Regions from separate parts of the Homo sapiens genome. Here region 1 is linked to region 2. The links come from fine-mapping of genetic effects on gene expression. A gene starts in region 2. The other region holds a variant in brackets. All regions are shown on one strand. Distances are between the middles of the regions.

The links. PIP is the estimated chance that this variant, and not a neighbour inherited with it, causes the effect.
Region 1: its variant is fine-mapped to the expression of CD300LB in whole blood (TOPMed, PIP above 0.99).

Annotation. Positions count from the first base shown.
Region 1 is chr17:74,497,926-74,506,862 of GRCh38, forward strand. No RefSeq gene overlaps it. Among named protein-coding and RNA genes, the nearest start is that of CD300LB, 29 kb to the right of the region's middle. The variant A/G (reference allele first, on the strand shown) is at 5,060.
Region 2 is chr17:74,526,211-74,535,147 of GRCh38, forward strand. CD300LB (CD300 molecule like family member b) reads right to left here and starts at 5,265. Exons shown (of 4, transcript NM_174892.4): 1 at 5,101-5,265. The coding sequence starts at 5,140. LOC107985074 (a long non-coding RNA gene) reads left to right here. Exons shown (of 3, transcript XR_007065902.1): 2 at 6,337-6,431; 3 at 8,465-8,669. It also overlaps a transcript of CD300C not described here. RefSeq lists an enhancer at 2,315-2,384.

The DNA of each region.
Region 1 (8,937 bases), 28 kb before region 2:
CTACTAAGAATACAAAAATTAGCCAGGCGTGGTGGCGCATGCCTATAATCCCAGCTACTCAGGAGGCTGAGGCAGGAGAATTGTTTGAACCCAGGAGACGGAGGTTGCAGTGAGCCAAGATCACACCACTGCACTCCAGCCTGGGTGACACACTGGACTCGATCTCAAAAAAAAAAAAAAAATTTTTTTTATATTAACTACAGAAAAAAGATCTATTTGTTGTAAAAAAAAAAGTTAGAAAATACAGACAAAAAGAAGAAAATAACAATGTTCATATATCTACATTTTTTCCTTATAAAATATGGGTTCAAATAACATATACTCTTAAAATTTGTATCATGTTCCTTTTATGGATGTAATGTAATTTATTTAACCATATCTTTACTGTTGGGGATTTAGGATGTTTCTAGTTTCTTGCTATTATAACCAATTATGTGACCATTCTTGCACATAATTATTTCTTTAGGATACACTCTTAGAAATGTCTCGGCCCAGGGGTAGTATATTCGATAGGATTTGGGTGCAATTTATTCTCCTATCAGCCTGGTATGGAAATATCCTTCAGCATATCCCATGGCCAACATTGGGAATGGTGCCTTTAAAAAAATGATTTAAACTTCTGCCAATTACAAATAAATAGTTCTCATTGCTTTTAAATAAATACCATTAATTCTGGCCGGGTTCTGTGGCTCACGTCTGTAATCCTGGCACTTTGAGAGGCCAAGGCAGGCAGATCACTTGAGGCCAGGAGTTTGAGACCAGCCTGGACAACATGGTGAAACCCCGTCTCTACTAAAAATACAAAAAGTTAGCCAGGCATGGTGGTGCATGCCTGTAATCCCAGCTACTCGTGAGGCTGAGGCAGGAGAATCGCTTGAGCCCAGGAGGCGGAGGTTGCAGTGAGCCAAGATCATGCCGCTGCACTCCAGCCTGGGTGACAGAGCGAGACTCCATCTCAAAAACAAACAATCAACAATAACAACAAAAAGAATAACATTAATTCAGAAAAGTGTGTATCGTTCCATATCCAGATGATGTCTCTTAACACACACACAAAAAGAAAAGTAAAAATTATTTAATTAGCCAGGCGCGGTGGCAAGCTCCCATAATCCCAGCTACTGGGGAGGCTGAGGCAGGAGAATTGCTTGCACCTGGGAGGCAGAGGTTGCAGTGAGCCGAGATCGCGCCATTGCACTCCAACCTGGGTGACAGAGCAAGACTCCATCTCAGGACAAAAAAAAAAAAAAATTTTAAACCCATGTGCAATGGACAGAAAATTAAAACAGTACAGGAAGTTATAAAATTAACAAAAAAGTCTCCTTCCTCCTACCCTACCCCTAGTACCATTCCACAAAAGTGACTACTGTTAGCCATTTCTTACACAGCTTTCAGAAAACTTATTATTATTTCAAAATTATTTTCAAAAGGGCTAATCCAGGCGCAGTGGTTCACATTTGTAATCCCAGCACTTTGGGAGGCCGAGGCAGGCGGATCACCTGAGGTCAGGAGTTCAAGACCAGCCTGGCCAACTTGGTGAAACCCTGTCTCTACTAAAAATACAAAATTAGCCAAGTGTGGTGACACACACCTGTAATCCCAGCTACTTGGGAGGCTGAGGAAGGAGAATCGCTTGAGCTCAGGAGGCAGAGGTTGCAGCGAGTCAAGATCGCGCCACTGCACTCCAGCATGGGCGACACAGCAAGACTCCATCTCCAAAAAAAGTGGGGGGAGGGGCTCATAATTCTTCATACCTCACTTTTGCATATGTCCTAGAGACCTTGTTATACAAGTACACACAAATCTACCTCATTCTTTTATATGTGATTCCACAGTTTTAATTCATTCCGTTATTTACTCATTTACTTGATGACTTTTATTGAATACCTACTATATACCATGGAGCTATACAGCAGAGACATAGCAGTGAAGAAGATAAATGAGGCCCCTTCTGTCTGGTCCTTGTATCTTAGTGGGCAGTAGACAGAACAAACAAAACAAAAGCAAGCTTCGTTCAGATCATCACAGAACTGCTGTGTGAAGATCTGAATTGTGTACAGCTGAGAGTGATGAGAGGCAGGAAGGGCTGCTTGCATAGGGAGGTCATGGAGGGACTTCCTGACATTTGAGCTGAGACTTGAGAAGGAGCCAGCCACACAATAATATAGAGTGAGAGCATTCCTGGCAGAGGAAACAGCTCAGGCAAAGGCTCTAAGGGGGAACAAGGCTAGTGTGTCCCAGGCTTAGGGTGCCGGCCAGATGAGTACAGAGTAGACAATGTGGGGAGCTTGGTGGGAGGCAGACGCAGAAAGGCAGAGGCAGGCAGTGGTCAGATCAGGGAAGGGTTAATACGCAAATGTGTGGATTTTGTCCTAAGTGGAAACTCTGAAAAATTTCAAGCAAGGGAGTCACACAATGGCACCTTGGAATGGGGTGGTGGATGTGGCCATTGGAGAAGGTGGACAAGCTCAGAATGCATTCTGGCCGTAGAGCCAACCCAACAGGCTGAAGGATTGGATGTGGGAGGGAGTGAAAAGAAAGGAATAAAAATTGCAGGTGACTTCTACGGTTTTCACTTGAGCAATTGGGAGGGCAGTAAAGGTGGGTCCCTTTACGGAAATGGAAAGACTAAGAGAGCAGCAGTTTTGGGGTGGAATTGGGGAGAGGAAACAGGGACTCTGTTGGGCGTACAGATGCTCAAATAAAGATGACAAGCCCCCTATTGGCTGTATGAGTCAGGCGCTGGGGGAGGGACTGGAGCTGTAGGTGCACAATGCATGCCGATGTATCTGTGTGTCATACAAGGCCCCATGTATGACTGCGTGTGTATACACATGCACAGATGCACACATTGTTATGTCATCCCAGACCATGTTTTTGTATTTTTGTACCTGTATCTTGGTATATATCTGAGTATATCTTTTTTTTTTTTTTTTTTTTTTTTTTTTGAGACAGAGTCTTGCTCTGTTGCCCAGGCTGGAGTGCAGTGGTGTGATCTTGGCTCACTGCAACCTCTGTCTCCCGGGTTCAAGCGATTCTTCTGCCTCAGCCTCCCAAGTAGCTGGGACTACAGGCGTGCACCACCACACCCAGCTAATTTTTGTATTTTTAGTAGAGATGGGGTTTCACCGTGTTGGCCAGGCTGGTCTCGATCTCCTGACCTCGTGATCTGCCCACTTCAGCCTCCCAAAGTGCTGGGATTACAGGCGTGAGCCACCACGCCTGGCCTATCTGAGTATATCTTTAGGAGAAATTTCCAATAGTGGAGCATTAGTCAAAAGGTCCATGAATTGACTTTTTTTTAATAGATCTTGACAAATTTTCCTTCAAAAAGCTCTTGCCCACTGTCATGCCAAGCGTCAGGTTCCAGCCCATGTTGAGGTCTGAGGGGAGTGGGTGGATGGGTGGCGAATAGCGGAAGGAATATTTAGGGGGCTGTAGGCAGGTAAAATATGGTTTTATTCAGCAGCTTTTTCATCAGCAGTTTTTTTTATATACTTTAAGTTCTAGGGTACATGTGTACAATGTGCAGGTTTGTTACATAGGTATATATGTGCCATGTTGGTTTGCTGCACCCATCAGCTCGTCATTTACACTAGGTATTTCTCCTAATGCTATCCCTCCCCCAGCCCCCCACCCCTTGACAGGCCCCGGTGTGTGATGTTCCCCACCCTGTGTCCAAGTGTTCTCATTGTTCGATTCCTACCTATGAGTGAGAACATTCGGTGTTTGGTTTTCTGTCCTTGTGATAGTTTCATCAGAAGCTTTCTCATACAATTCACCTTTATCTCGGCTGCCTGCTCCAGCTTTGCGGCTCTTGCCATTCCCAGGCTTACAGCTGCATTCCCTGGCCTACAAGCCTGGCTCTCCCTTATGGGGTCAGCAGTTTTACTCTCTGCCTCTGGGCACAAGCCATGCCGAACCACATGTACAGCGTCAGCAGGGCAGTTATACCTTTTACAGACAATAGTGGCTCTGAGCCACTTACACAAACAGATTACATAACAAGTGGAGTTATGCGCCTGCGCGCCAGACTCCCTGAGTCACGCTGGCCCTGATGTTTGCCTCTGCCTGTTTTGTTTTTGTTTTTGTTTTTGTTTTTTGAGACGGAGTTTCGCTCTGTCGCCCAGGCTGGAGTGCAATGGTGCAATCTCGGCTTACTGTAACCTCCGCCTCCCAGGTTCAAGCGATTCTCCTGCCTCAGCCTCCCGAGCCACCACACCCAGCTATTTTTTTTTTTTTTTTGTATTTATAGTAGAGATGGGGTTTCACCATGTTGGCCAGGCTGGTCTCAAACACCTGACCTCTGGTGATCCACCCGCCTCAGCCTCCCAAAGTGTTAGGATTGCAGGCGTGAGCCACCGCACCTGGCTAACCTATTCTTGACCAAAGCACATCCATGTACCTTACACCCACTTACCTTCCCATCAAGAACACTCAACGATGTCCCTTTCCCTACACTCTCGCCAGTATTGGATATTTTCACACTCTATTTTCTTTTCAATCTGATAGAAGAAAATAATATCTTATAATTTTCAGAATTTGCATTCCTTTATTTGCCATTTTAGTTTTTTTCCTGTGAACTATCCATTTGCCCATTTTGCCATTGAGCTTTTAATCTATCTTACTGAGTTCCTCCGAGTGCTTTGTAAATTAAGAAAATAAGCTCTCTGTCAAATTGCCTGCAACATTTCCTTCATAGCTTGTCATTTTTTAAAAAACTTTCAAAGGTGTTTTCACCCAGTGATGTTTCATCTTTTTTCTGAGGTCAGATTTCTCAATCATTTGCTTTATAAAGTTTGAGTTTTCCTTAGGATGCTCCATTTCAAGAGTCTAATAAATTCACCCATTATTCTAAAACTTTTGTAAATTTCATTTTATATTTTCAGTTTATTCTAAAACTTGCAGTTTTCAGTTTATTCTAAAACTTTTAAATAGTCTAAGACTTTAGAAAGATTTCAGTTTATTCTAAAACTTGTGTAGTTTCTTCGTATTTAAATCTTTGATCCATTTGAAACTATTTTGGCTTACAGAGTGCGGTATGAACAGAACTTGAGTTTGT[A/G]TAAGACTTAGCCAGCTGTCTCTACATCACTGATTGAGTAACCCCTCGTGTCCCATGCATAGTCCTAGGCGCCACTGTGCTGGATCAGAAGCGAAGGGAGAAGGTTAAGTGACTCACTCAGTATTTGACCACAACACTGCTTAGCTCAAAAGTCCACCTTGCTGCCCCCTTTTAGTTAAAATGAGCCTGTTAGTGAGACCCTTGATTTTTTTAGCTTTTTTTATTTTTAGTTTTTCTGGGTCATAGTAGGTGTATATATTTATGAGGTGCCTCGGGAGCATTCTGGACCATCACAGACGCTTTGGGTAACTCTTACATTGGAGGGTAAGCCCATCCCCTTCTTAATCAATACGGAGGCTACCCACTCCACATTACCTTCTTTTCGAGGGCCTGTTTCCCTTGCCTCCATAACTGTTGTGGCTATTGACGACCAGGCTTCTAAACCTCTTAAAGCTCCCCAACTCTGGTGCCAACTTGGACAACATTCTTTTATGCACTCCTTTTTAGTTATCCCCACCTGCCCAGTTCCCTTATTAGGTGAGGCATTTTAACTAAATTGTCTGCTTCCCTGACTATTCCTGGGCTATAGCCACACCTCATTGCTGCCCTTTTCCCCAGTTTAAATCCTCCTTCGCATCATCCCCTTGTGTCTCCCTACCTTAATCCACAAGTATAGGACACCTCTACTCCCTCCTTGGTGACCGATCATGCACCCCTTACCATTCCATTAAAACCTAATCACCCTTACCCCGCTCAACACCAGTATCCCATCCCACAGCACACTTTAAAAGGATTAAAGCCTGTTATCACTGGCCTGCTACAGCATGGCCTTCTAAAGCCTATAAACTCTCCTTGCAATTCCTCCATTTTACCTGTCCAAAACCCGGAAAAGTCTTACAGGTTAGTTCAGGATCTGCACCTTATCAACCAAATTGTCTTGCCTATCCACACCGTGATGCCAAACCCATATACTCTCCTATCCTCAATACCTCCCTCCACAACCCATTATTCTGTTCTAGATAAATGTAGCTGACCCCATAGATCCTAAATCCTTTCCCCACTCCTCTTTCCATTCCTTAAAAAACTCATCCCAACCCTTTTCATTACACACAGCTGAAGTACAGGACTGTGTGGTCGGAATTCTTACACAAGAGCTGGAACCACGCCCTGTAGTCTTTCTGTCCAAACAACTTGACCTTACTGTTTTAGCCTAGCCCTCATGTCTGCGTGCAGCGGCTGCCACTGCTTTAATATTTTAGAGGCCCTCAAAATCACAAACTATGCTCAACTCACTCCGTACAGTTCTCATAACTTCCAAAATCTATTTTCTTCCTCCCACCTGATGCATATACTTTCTGCCCTCCGGCTCCTTTGGCTATACTCACTCTTTGTTGAGTCTCCCACAGTTACCATTGTTCCTGGCCCAGACTTCAATCCAGCCTCCCACATTATTCTGGATACCACACCTGACCCCCATGACTCTATCTCTCTGATCCACCTGACATTTATTCCATTTCCCCATCTTTCCTTCTTTCCTATTCCTCACCCTGATCACACTTGGTTTATTGATGGCAGTTCCACCAGGCCTAATCACCACTCATCAGCAAAGGCAGGCTATGCTATAGTATCTTCCACATCTATCATTGAGGCTACTGCTCTGCCCTGCTCCACTCCCTCTCAGCAAGGCGAACTCATTGCCTTAACTCAGGCCCTCACTCTTGCAAAGGGACTACGCGTCAATATTTATACTGACTCTAAATATGCCTTCCATATCCTGCACCACCATGCTGTTACATGGGCAGAAAGAAATTTCCTCACTACACAAGAGTCCTCCATTATTAATGTGTCCTTAATAAAACCTCTTCTTAAAGCTGCTTTACTTTCAAAGGAAGCTGGAGTCATTCGCTGCAAGGGCCATCAAAAGGCATCAGATCCCATTGCTCAGGGCAACTCTTATGCTGATAAGGTAGCTAAAGAGGCAGCTAGTTTTCCAACTTCTGTCCCTGATGGCCAGTTTTTCTCCTCATTGGTCACTCCTATTTACTGTCCCACTGAAGTTTCCACCTATCAATCCCTCTCCACTCAAGGCAGATGGTTTTTAGACAAAAAAAAAATCTCCTTCAAGCCTCACTAGCCCATTCTATTCCTGTCGTCATTTCATAACCTCTTCCATGTAGGTTACAAGCCATTAGCCCGCCTCTTAAAAACTCTCATTTCCTTTCCATTGTGAAAATCTATCCCCAATCCACCACTCTTGACTCCCTCTTGGAGTGGGTAGATGATCTTTGCTGACAGGACACACTCCAATACTCTCACCCTTATGAAGTCCTGTTCTTTACTTTTATACTCACTCTTATTCTTGTTCCCGTTCTTATGCCACCCTCTCTACCTCTTCGCAGCTATCTCCACCACACTATCAATCTCACTCACTCTCTCCTAGCTGTTTCTAATCCTTCTTTAACAAACAATTGCTGGCTTTACATTTCTCTTTCCTCCAAAATCAATGAGGCCCCGACTTACTCACTGCTAAAAAAAGGGGGACTCTGTATATTTTTAAATGAACAGTGTTGTTTTTACCTAAATCAGTCTGGCCTGGTATATGACAACATAAAAAAACTCAAGGATAGAGCCCAAAAACTCACTAACCAAGCAAATAATTGCGTTGATCCCCCTTGGACACTGTCTAATTGGATGTCCTGGGTACTCCCAATTCTTAGTTCTTTAATACCTATTTTTCTCCTTCTTTTATTCGGACCTTGTGTCTTCCATTTAGCTTCTCAATTCATACAAAACACATACAGTCCATCACCAATCATTCTGTGCAACAAATCCTACTTCTAACAACCCCACAATATCACCCCTTACCCCAAAATCTTTCTTCAGTTTAATCTCTCCCACTCTAGGTTCCCATGCTGCCCCTAATCCCACTCTAAGCATCCCTGAGAAACATCGCCCATTATCTCTCCATACTACCCCCCAAAATTTTCGCCACCCCAACACTTCACCACTATTTTGTTTTGTTTTTCTTATTAATATAAGAAGACAGGAATGTCAGGCCTCTGAGCCCAAGCTAAGCCATCATGTCCCCTGTGACCTGCACATATACATCCAGATGGCCTGAAGCAACTGAAGATCCACAAAAGAAGTGAAAATAGCCTTAACTGATGACATTCCACCATTGTGATTTGTTCCTGCCCCACCCTAACTGATACGCTATATTCTCCCCTGCCCTTAAGAAGGTACTTTGTAATATTCTCCCCGCCCTTGAGAATGTACTTTTTATGCCTATCCCAAACCTGTAAGAACTAATGATAATCCCACCACCCTTTGCTGACTCATTTTTTGGACTCAGCCTGCCTGCATCCAGATGAAATAAACAACCTTGTTGCTCACACAAAGCCTGTTTGGTGGTCTCTTCACATGGACGTGTGTGACAATCTCATTGAGTTTTGAGTTGCATTTCTCTGATGATCAATGATGTTGAGCACGTTTTCATATACCTGTTTGCCTTTTGTAGATCTTCTTTGAAAGATGTCTATCAGATCTTTTGCCCATTTTTTAATTAGATTATTATATTTTTTCCTACTGTGTTATTTGGGCTCCTTACATATTCTGGTTATTAATCCCTTGTCAAATGGGTGTTTGCAAATATTTTCTCCCATTCTGTGGATTGTTGCTTCATTTTGGTGATTGTTTCTTTTGCTGTACAGAAGCTTTTTAACTTGATGTGATCCCATTTGCCCATTTTTGCTTAGGTTGCCTGTGCTTGTGGAGTATTACTCAAGAAATATTTTCCAAGTCCAATGTTCTGGAGAATTTCCTCAGTATTTTCTTTTAGTAGTTTCACAGTTTGAGATCTTAGATTTAAGTATTTAATC
Region 2 (8,937 bases):
GAGCCAGTTTGGTGTTTAAGAGTCCCGAGTGTGTCTCTAGCACACCCGATTCCTCATCCCCATCTCCCTCTCAGTCCATTCCCCCACCAGCTTCTAGACCTGCTTAGCATGTGACACCATGGTCTCCTACCACCTTCTTTCCTTGTCCTCTCAATGCTGTTTTCATCGGAGCCAAATATTTAACAACCAGCCCTCTGGGGGAAAAAATCTCTGGTTTAGGAGCTGGGCACGGTGGCTCACACTTGTAATCCCAGCACTTTGGGAAGCCAAGGTGGGCAGATCACCTGAGGTCAGGAGTTCGAGACCTGCATGGCCAACATGGTGAAACCCAGTCTTTACTAAAAATACAAAAATTAGCTGGGCGTGGTGGCAGTCACCTGTAGTCTCAGCTATGCGGGAGGCTGAAGCATGAAAATTGCTTGAACCCGGGAGGCGGAGGTTGCAGTGAGCTGAGATCGCACCACTGCACTCCAGCCTAGGCAACAGAGTGAGACTCTTGTCTAGAAAAAGAAAAAGAAAAAAAATCTGGTTTTAATATTTGCCAAATTCCATAGTGTAAATACTCCCACGGTGGCAGATGTCAGGTAATCCATGTGATGTCACTGGACACAGAGCTGGGAAAAGATGTCCCAAGCCAGCTCCTGTGAGCCAGCCCCAGCACACTGCGGGGGTACCCAGGGTTCCCTCTCCAGCCTTCATCTTGTCTCACCTGACAAGCCTCCATGGAGGGAGTCTCTCCATTTCCATGGCTTTAATGATTACCTGTTTCCTGATGATTCCCAAATCCATATTTGCAGCTCAGACTCCCCTTAGCTAGCCCACCATTTACAAAGACACACTGGATGTCTCCACCCCAGATTCCTTCGTTGCAGAATTGAATGCACTTCCTCTCCCACCCTGAACTACTCTTCTTCAGTATTTTTTTCTAGTGGAGCAATTGGATGTGGCAAGAGTAACAAAGGCCTGGTGAAAGCTGAACAGGTTAGAGGTGAGCATAATCAAATGGCAGTCCGTGCCTCCGCTGATTGACTCCAGTTAGGCTGTGTGTAGATAGGCTCTTTCCTTGGCAATGACACGGGTTTCTTGATCACGCAGAAGTGGATAAACAGGCAGAGAATCACAGGGGAAGCCTCTCTTGACTGTCTCTTGGCCTCAGAGCTTCAGGCCCAGGCCAGGGGTCTCTGCAGGGTGGAGAAAGCCAGGTCTATTTCTCCAGGCAGATGCCGCCTCCTCACAGCTTGGGCCTTCTCCTTGAAGCTGTGTTAGTTTTCTTGAACTTTGCATTCGTGGTTGGTAGAATAATGTCCCCCATAGCTGTTGGCATCCTCATACACAGAACCTGCGAATATGTCCCCTGACATGGCCAGAGGGACTCTGCCGATGTGATGAAGTTAAGGACCTTGAGACAGGAAGAATATCCCGAATAATCTCCATGGATATTCTAAGTGAAAGAGGGTTGAGGGAGAGTCCAATTGGAAGATGGTCTGTTGCTGCTTTGAAGTGGAAGAAGAGGCCACCGGCCAAGGAAAGCAGATGGCTTCTAGAAGCTGGAAAATGCAGGGAAACAGATTCTCCCCTAGAATAGGGGTTCCCAACCCCAGGACAACAGACTAGTAACAGCCCATGGCCTGTTAGGAACCGGACCTTACAGCAGGAGGTGAGCGGTGGGCAAGCAAGCGAAGCTTCATCTGTATTTACAGCCACTCCCCGTTGTTCAAACTACCACCTGATCTCCGCCTCCCATCAGACCAGCGGCCGCATTAGATTCTCATAGAAGTGAGAACCCTATTGTGAACTTCGTGTGTGAGGGATCTAGATTGCACACACTTTATGAGACTCTAATGCCTGATGATGTGTCACTGTCTCCCATCACCCCCAGATGGGATCATCTAGTTGCAGGTAAACAAGCTTAGGGCTCCCACTGATTCTACATTATGGTGCAGTGTATAATCATTTCATTATATATTATAATATAATAGTAATATAAAGTATACAATAAGTGTAATGCGTTTGAATCATCCCAAACCATCCTCACCCCACTCCTGATGTGGAAAAATTGTCTTCCACAAAACCGGATCCTGGTGCCAAAAAGGTTGGGGACCACTGCTCTAAAGAAACCCAACCCTACTTGCACCTCAATTTTAACCAGTAAGACCACGCCAGGCTCTGGTCTTCAGAAGCATCAATGAGATGATGAAATTGTGCAGTTCTAAGCCATAGAGTTCATGTTAATTTGTTACAGCAGCCACTGGAAATTCACATGGCATTCAATCAGCAGAACCAACTTGATTCTCTTCAAACCAGCAGCTCCACCACCCAGCCTTCAGGAAGAGCTTGGCATCTTCTTTCATGCTGTCCTCTCCTTCAGCCCCCGAGCTGATTGGTAGCCAGTTTAGTCAGCTCTATCCTAGAGATGCTCCTCAGTTTTTTTTTTTCTTCTTTCAGTCTCTGCCATCGCAGGCCACAAGGACAGCATGACATCAGAGAGAGTGTGAGCTTTGATGCAGAAAGACTTGACACTGAACTAGTTGGGAAACCCTGGCAGAGTTGCTTAACCTCTGCAAGTATCGCTTCCTTATTCATAAGACAGTCATGCTACGCTCTACTTTGAAGGTGGTAATAGGACTTGGATGTGTGTAGGCTGGGCAAGGTGGCTCATGCCTGTAATTCCAAAGCTGTGGGAGGCTGAGGCAGGAGGATCGCTTGAGCCCAGGAGTTCCAGACTAACCTGGGCAACATGGTGAAACCCTGTGTCTGCAAATGCAAAAGATTAGCCAGGAGTGGTGGTGCATGCCTGTGGTCCCCACTGCTTGGGGGGCTGAGGTGGGAGGATCGCCTGAGCCTGAGAGTTCAAGGCTGCAGTGAGTTATAATCGCCCACCACTGCACTTCAGCCTGGGTGACAGAGTGAGACACTGTCTTCAAAAAATTATTTATTTTTAAATTTAAAAGAAGACTTGGATGTATGTCCAACGCCAGACATTTGGGGTTTGCTCTGTCAGTGACAGCTCATCAACAGGTCAGAACTTCATCTGTGCCTGGATCATGGCAGTGGCATCTGGAGAGGTCTTCCCAGCCCCAGCAGCATCCTCCCCAACTCTCCTCTCCTGAGGATTATGGCCTTCATAATCTTGTCTTTTGTGTTTCCAACCTCATATCCAACTCGCCACCCCCAAGATGTCCTGCACACTGACAGCTCCCTCAGCTTTCCTCTCCATACTGCTGCCTGAGTTGGGTACTGAGACTGTCTCCTCCTCCTCATCAGCTGCACTTGCCCTGAGCATCTAAAAGTCTTTTCGGGGCCGGGCACGGTGGCTCATGCCTGTATTCCCGCACTTTGGGAGGCCAAGGTGGGTGGATCACCTGAGGTCAGGAGTTCAAGACCAACCTCACCAACATGGTGAAATCCTGTCTCTACTAAAATTACAAAAATTAGCCAGGCATGGTGGCAGGCACCTTAATCCCAGCTTCTTGGGAGACTGAGGCAGAAGAATCACTCGAACCTGGGAGGCGGAGGTTGCAGTGAGCCAAGGTTGCACCACTGCACTCCAACCTGGGTGACAGAGTGAAACTCCGTCTCAAAAACAAAAAACAAAAACAAAAACAAAATACCCAAAAACATAAATTGGATTTGTCAGCAATCACTAACAGCAGAAAAGAGATGCTGCTGCATTGAACAAAGTGTCATCAATCCCAGCTTCAGTCATTCAAACTGTAAATGGCTCACGATGTAATTAGTCCCGTTTAAAAAAATATTTGGGGGTTTCTCTAACCACAGAATATGATGGCTGGAACTATTAATCAGGCTTCTATATGTTGTCAAGAGTTGGTATGAGGAACGATAGAGATGGAAATGACAGGGCAGCCGTCAGCTTGGAGCAGAGCCCCGTTGAACGGGCTGAAGGGTGGAAGTCCAGCCAGGACTGGAGTCGGGTCTCAGAACTCCCCAGCCATGCTCTTTCCTGTTGTCCCTCCGTGGACTGCTCTATCTGTGCCAGATGGTCAGTCCCTAGGCACCAGCAGAAAACTGTGTGGCCCACACACATTGCACACCCTGCGTAAAATTCTAGATTGTCCCCTAATGCCCTCTAGGTGTCCACCAAGGTTTGCCATGGAGAAGATCATCTAGCCCTTCCCACTTTCCACCTGGGTTCTTGAGAAGTTTTTTCTTTGAAAGTCTCAGCTCCTGAGCCTGGCGTGGATGGCCTTCATAATCTTGTCTTTTGTGTTTCCAACCTCATATCCAACTCGCCACCTCCAAGACATCCTGCACACTGACAGCTCCCTCTGCATGAATCCACCATTCTTTCTAAGCCTCCATCTCTCTGCCCAGGTCCCCCAACACACACACACACACACACACACACACACACACACACACACCCAACTCTCTAGAGTGTTCTCCTCTCAGCTCTGCTCCAGAGACTGACCTTCCTTCTACAAGGCACATCAAGTGCACAGCTTCGTGAGTCTTTCTCTAGTCACCAGAGAGAACTGCTTCATCCTCCGCACACGCCTCCACCAATGCCTTATTGTGTCCTGCAATTGCTCATTGTTTATGTGTATGTCTCACCCACTAAGCCATCTGGAGTCTTTTTACTTTATTTTTTTTTTGAGACAAGGTCCCACTGTATCACCCAGGCTGGAGTGCTGTGGTGCGATCATAACTCTGCAGAATTGAATACCTGAGCTCAAAGGATCCTCCAGCTTCAGCCTCCCAAGTAGCTGGGACTACAGGCACGGTCACCACGCCCAGCTAATTTTTGTTCATTTTATATAGAGACGAGGTCTCACCATGTTGCCCAAACTGGTCTTAAACGCCTGGACTCAAGCAATCCTCCCACCTTGGCCTCCCAAAGTGTTAGGATTATAGGTGTGAGCCATGGCCTCAAGCCTGGAGTCTTCTTTAATGGCCAGTTCTCCTCCTCTTTTTTCTTGATGTCCTCAGGCCCCGAAGCACACGATGTCAGTCCCCAGTGCACCTTTGTCGAATGACTTCACAAAGCCACCTCTCATTTCCCTGGATGTGGAAGGACAAATGCCCTCTGCCTCCTGCCCTGCCCCTGTCATACCAAGCGCCCAAGGCCCCAGCCCCACTCACCTGAGAGGCTGAGAAGGAGCAGAGCAGGGGGCAGCCACATGGCTCTGCCTTCCCGGCTCCTCGTCCGCCTGATCTGCAACCAGTGGCAAATGCAGATCCCAGATGCACTCTGGAAGTTCTGCCTGAGCTCTGGCTTGCACCTTCTGCACATCTAGACCGCCTTTGACTTTCTTACTCATTCACTTCCTTTTATAGAGTGGGTAGTTCCTGCTTTTAATTATTAAACGAAAGAGGTGTCATTTTTTGGCAGGGCTGCGCCACAGGGCTTAAGCATCGTCACTATGTAAAAAAGAGGAGGGAGGGGACTGTGCAGGGTCTTTAGGGTAGGGGGAGATACGTCTGCAGAAGGGGTGGGGTGGGGGGCGTCTGGCCTAGCAGGCCTTGGGTCCAAGGGGTATAACACTCTGGGAGTCAATTTCAGAGCTGTTCTATACCACAGTGAACACCCAACTCAGATGTCGGATGGGTCATGCTGGGCACACCTGAACATGCATTTGTTCAGGTGTTATAGCCAAGTGCATAAACATGCAGACTGTTGGGTCAGACAGACCTGGCTCTAACCCCACGAGCACCACCTACAAGCTGCGTGACTGTGGACAATGCAATCAACATCTCTGTGCCTCAGTTATTGTATCTATTAACTGGGCTCATAATGTTTGTTGTTGTTATAGGAGTTATTAAGAAATTATTTTAGGTAGATAGGAAAAGGGGTGCTTGGGAAGATTTTTTTTTCTTTTAAAGCAGCTCCATAAATGTTTCTTGTCTAGAAGAAAAGCCCTGGCTCTTAGAGCTGGGCAGGCAAGCTTTGATATGCAAATACAGGCCATTAGAAACTGCGTCCACCCAAACATGGAGACTCCCGCCTCTTCTTCTTTTCCCCACGTTCCTGGCAACATGGCCGCCCCTACATACACCCATGTGTGTAGAACATCATGGCGCCTGTATTTGCATATTAAAAGGCTAGGGTAGGAAGGCTAGTTTTTTCGTGGGCTACTTGAATGACATACCTGGTCAAACCAATCCCCTGGGCCCTATGCAAATCAGGTACCGCCTCCTCCAGCCTCCTCATATAACTGGCTGTTTTCCACCGTACTCGAGGTTCCCTCTTTCAGCTTGGAGCCCGCCTCCCTCAGTCTCAGAACAGGGGGAGCCTCTTCCTTCCTTCTTTCTTGTCTATTAAATTCTCCACTCCTTAAAACCACTCCACGTGTGCCCATGTTGTTTTATTCAAACCAGTGGGAGACCAAGGACCCTAGTGTTCCTCCAGTCATCAGAGCCATACCATTTTGTTGCATTGGCCGGGAATCCAAGGTACGACACTCATCGGAGTGGTAAGTATGGGAGTGAGCTTAAAATCTCTTCTATCATTCCGAGGCACTCTTAGCCTCTATTTTAAAATAAAATAAGTCAATGGGCATCCGTCAGCCGGGTACATACACTTAGTGTTGGCTGCCATACTGAAGACTCGAATGTGAGGCTTGCTGCTGAGAACACGGAGAACCCCCCAACACCCCTGGGTCATTGGGAATGTTGGCCATGTTTTAAATCAGCTTCTTTTCACGGGAAGACCTCGCCATTGTGCAAGGCTGGGAAAAGTTCTAAGGCAACTAACAATTTCTGGCCAGAGCACACCCTGGCATGATTCAAAGGCCCCTGGACTGGACCCAGCCTCTGGCGGCCCATTCTGGGTGTTGGCAAAGAATCCTCAACTATCTTGTCACAAAACTCTCCTTCCTTCTCTATCTGCGGTCTCTTACACTTTCTTTGTGTGAAATGTGTAGCGAGTTTTACAGCCTAGGAAAGTAATCCTGTTAGGCAAAATCAGGAAGATGCCCTTGCAATCTTCTAGGAACAGAGTTCTCCCCTTTCTCCCACCGTGAGGTTACTCACTACCACGTCTCTAGTGAGCACATAGTATTTCTAAGCCAACAGTGCCACCTAGTAGAAATAGAAATCCTCTACATAAAGCATATTTTTTCATGGCAAACCGCAGCTTCTTTTTGCATGATTAGAAATCAGGCTCGGCCAGGCGCGGTGGCTCATGCCTGTAATCCCAGCACTTTGGGAGGCCGAGGCGGGCAGATCATGAGGTCGGGAGATCGAGACCATCCTGGCTAACACAGTGAAACCCCGTCTCTACTAAAAATACAAAAAAAAATTAGCCAGGCGTGGTGGCGGGCGCCTGTAGTCCCAGCTACTCGGGAGGCTGAGGCAGGAGAATGGCGTGAACCCGGCAGGCAGAGCTTGCAGTGAGCCGAGATCGCGCCACTGCACTCCAGCCTGGGCAACAGAGCAAGACTCGGTCTCAAAAAAAAGAAAAGAAAAGAAAAGGAAAGAGAGAGAGAGAGAGAAAGAAAGAACAAGAAAAGAAAAAAGAAAAAGAAATCAGGCTCTAGGCCTCTTCTTGAAATGGGAAAGTTCTGCCTTTAGCAGTTAGGAGTTAAGAAGTCTTCCATAGCCAAATTTTAGTCTCAATATTGTCCCATTGGCAGGAAAATGGCCATTCGGTTCCTACATTCCTTTAAGGCACCTATTCTGTCTCCGATTAAGATGGTACTTAATTAGTAAGGGGATTTTTAAGTCCAGAAGTTAACCAGAACCATTTTTCTAAGGGTAAATGCTTTAGCACAGGCCATAATAATAGCAAGATATAAAGTTCAATCTAGCACGCCCCCTCCCTTAAAGAGGCTTTGCCCAATTATGTAGTTTTTCTTTTTTTTTCTTTTCTTTTCTTTCCTTTTTTTTTTTTTTTTTTTTTTTTTTGAGATGGAGTCTTGCTCTTGCCACCCAGGCTGGATTGCAGTGGTATGATCTCAGCTCACTGCAACCTCCACCTCCCGGGTTCAAGTGATTCTCCTGCCTCATCCTCCCAAGTTGCTGGAATTACAGGTGCCCGCTACCATGTGTGGCTAATTTTTGTATTTTTAGTGGAGACAGGGTTTCACCATGTTGGCCAGGCTGGTCTTGAACTCCTGACCTCAGGTGATCCACCCACCTTGCCCTCCCAAAGTGCTAGAATTACAGACATAAGTCACCACACCTGGCCCGTAGTTTTTCTTAAAATCGTTGTTTTTTTGTTTTGTTTTTTAGGGAAGCACACAGGTCACACAGGAGGTCAAAAAGAAATAAAAGACTAAGGTGCTTGTGGAAGTGTAAGTGGGCCCAGAAGTCTAGTTTCTCTGGTGCCATGGCTTGGAGGGTCACGCCTGCAGTCATGGCCAGCACATTTAAATGGGTGCCAGGATCCAGGAACCAGGGAAAGAAAATAGTTGGGGGAACGCCCCCTACTGTGTTCTCCATCCTGGATCACATACTGAAAGGAAGGAGACTAAAATAATGCTTTTATTCTCACTTCTCTTTCTAGATGGGTAACAGATCGTCTTCTCTGCACTCCAACCTGGGTGACAGAATGAGGCTTCATCTAAAAAAATTAATATAATGAATCACATTAATAGAATAAAGAAGAAAACCCACATAATCATGTAAACGCACAAAAACCACTATCTGAAATCCATTACTTTTCATGATAAACTAGGAATTAAAAGGTGCCTATAAGCAACCCATTACAACCCATGGCAAAATCTTTCCTTTAGAATCAGGAAGAGGACAAGATTGCTCAAAATCACTACTTTGATTCAACACTTTGATTAGCCTGCACAATACAACAAGAAAGAGAAACAAAAGACATGAGAATTAGAAAGAAAAACAAAGCTCTAAATTATTCTAGATTAATTGATTATCTACATATAAAACTGAAAACAATTACTAAGATTTTTTGCAGAGTTGCTAAATATATATAATCAGTAAGGATCAATTGTTTATCTACATGCATGCAAT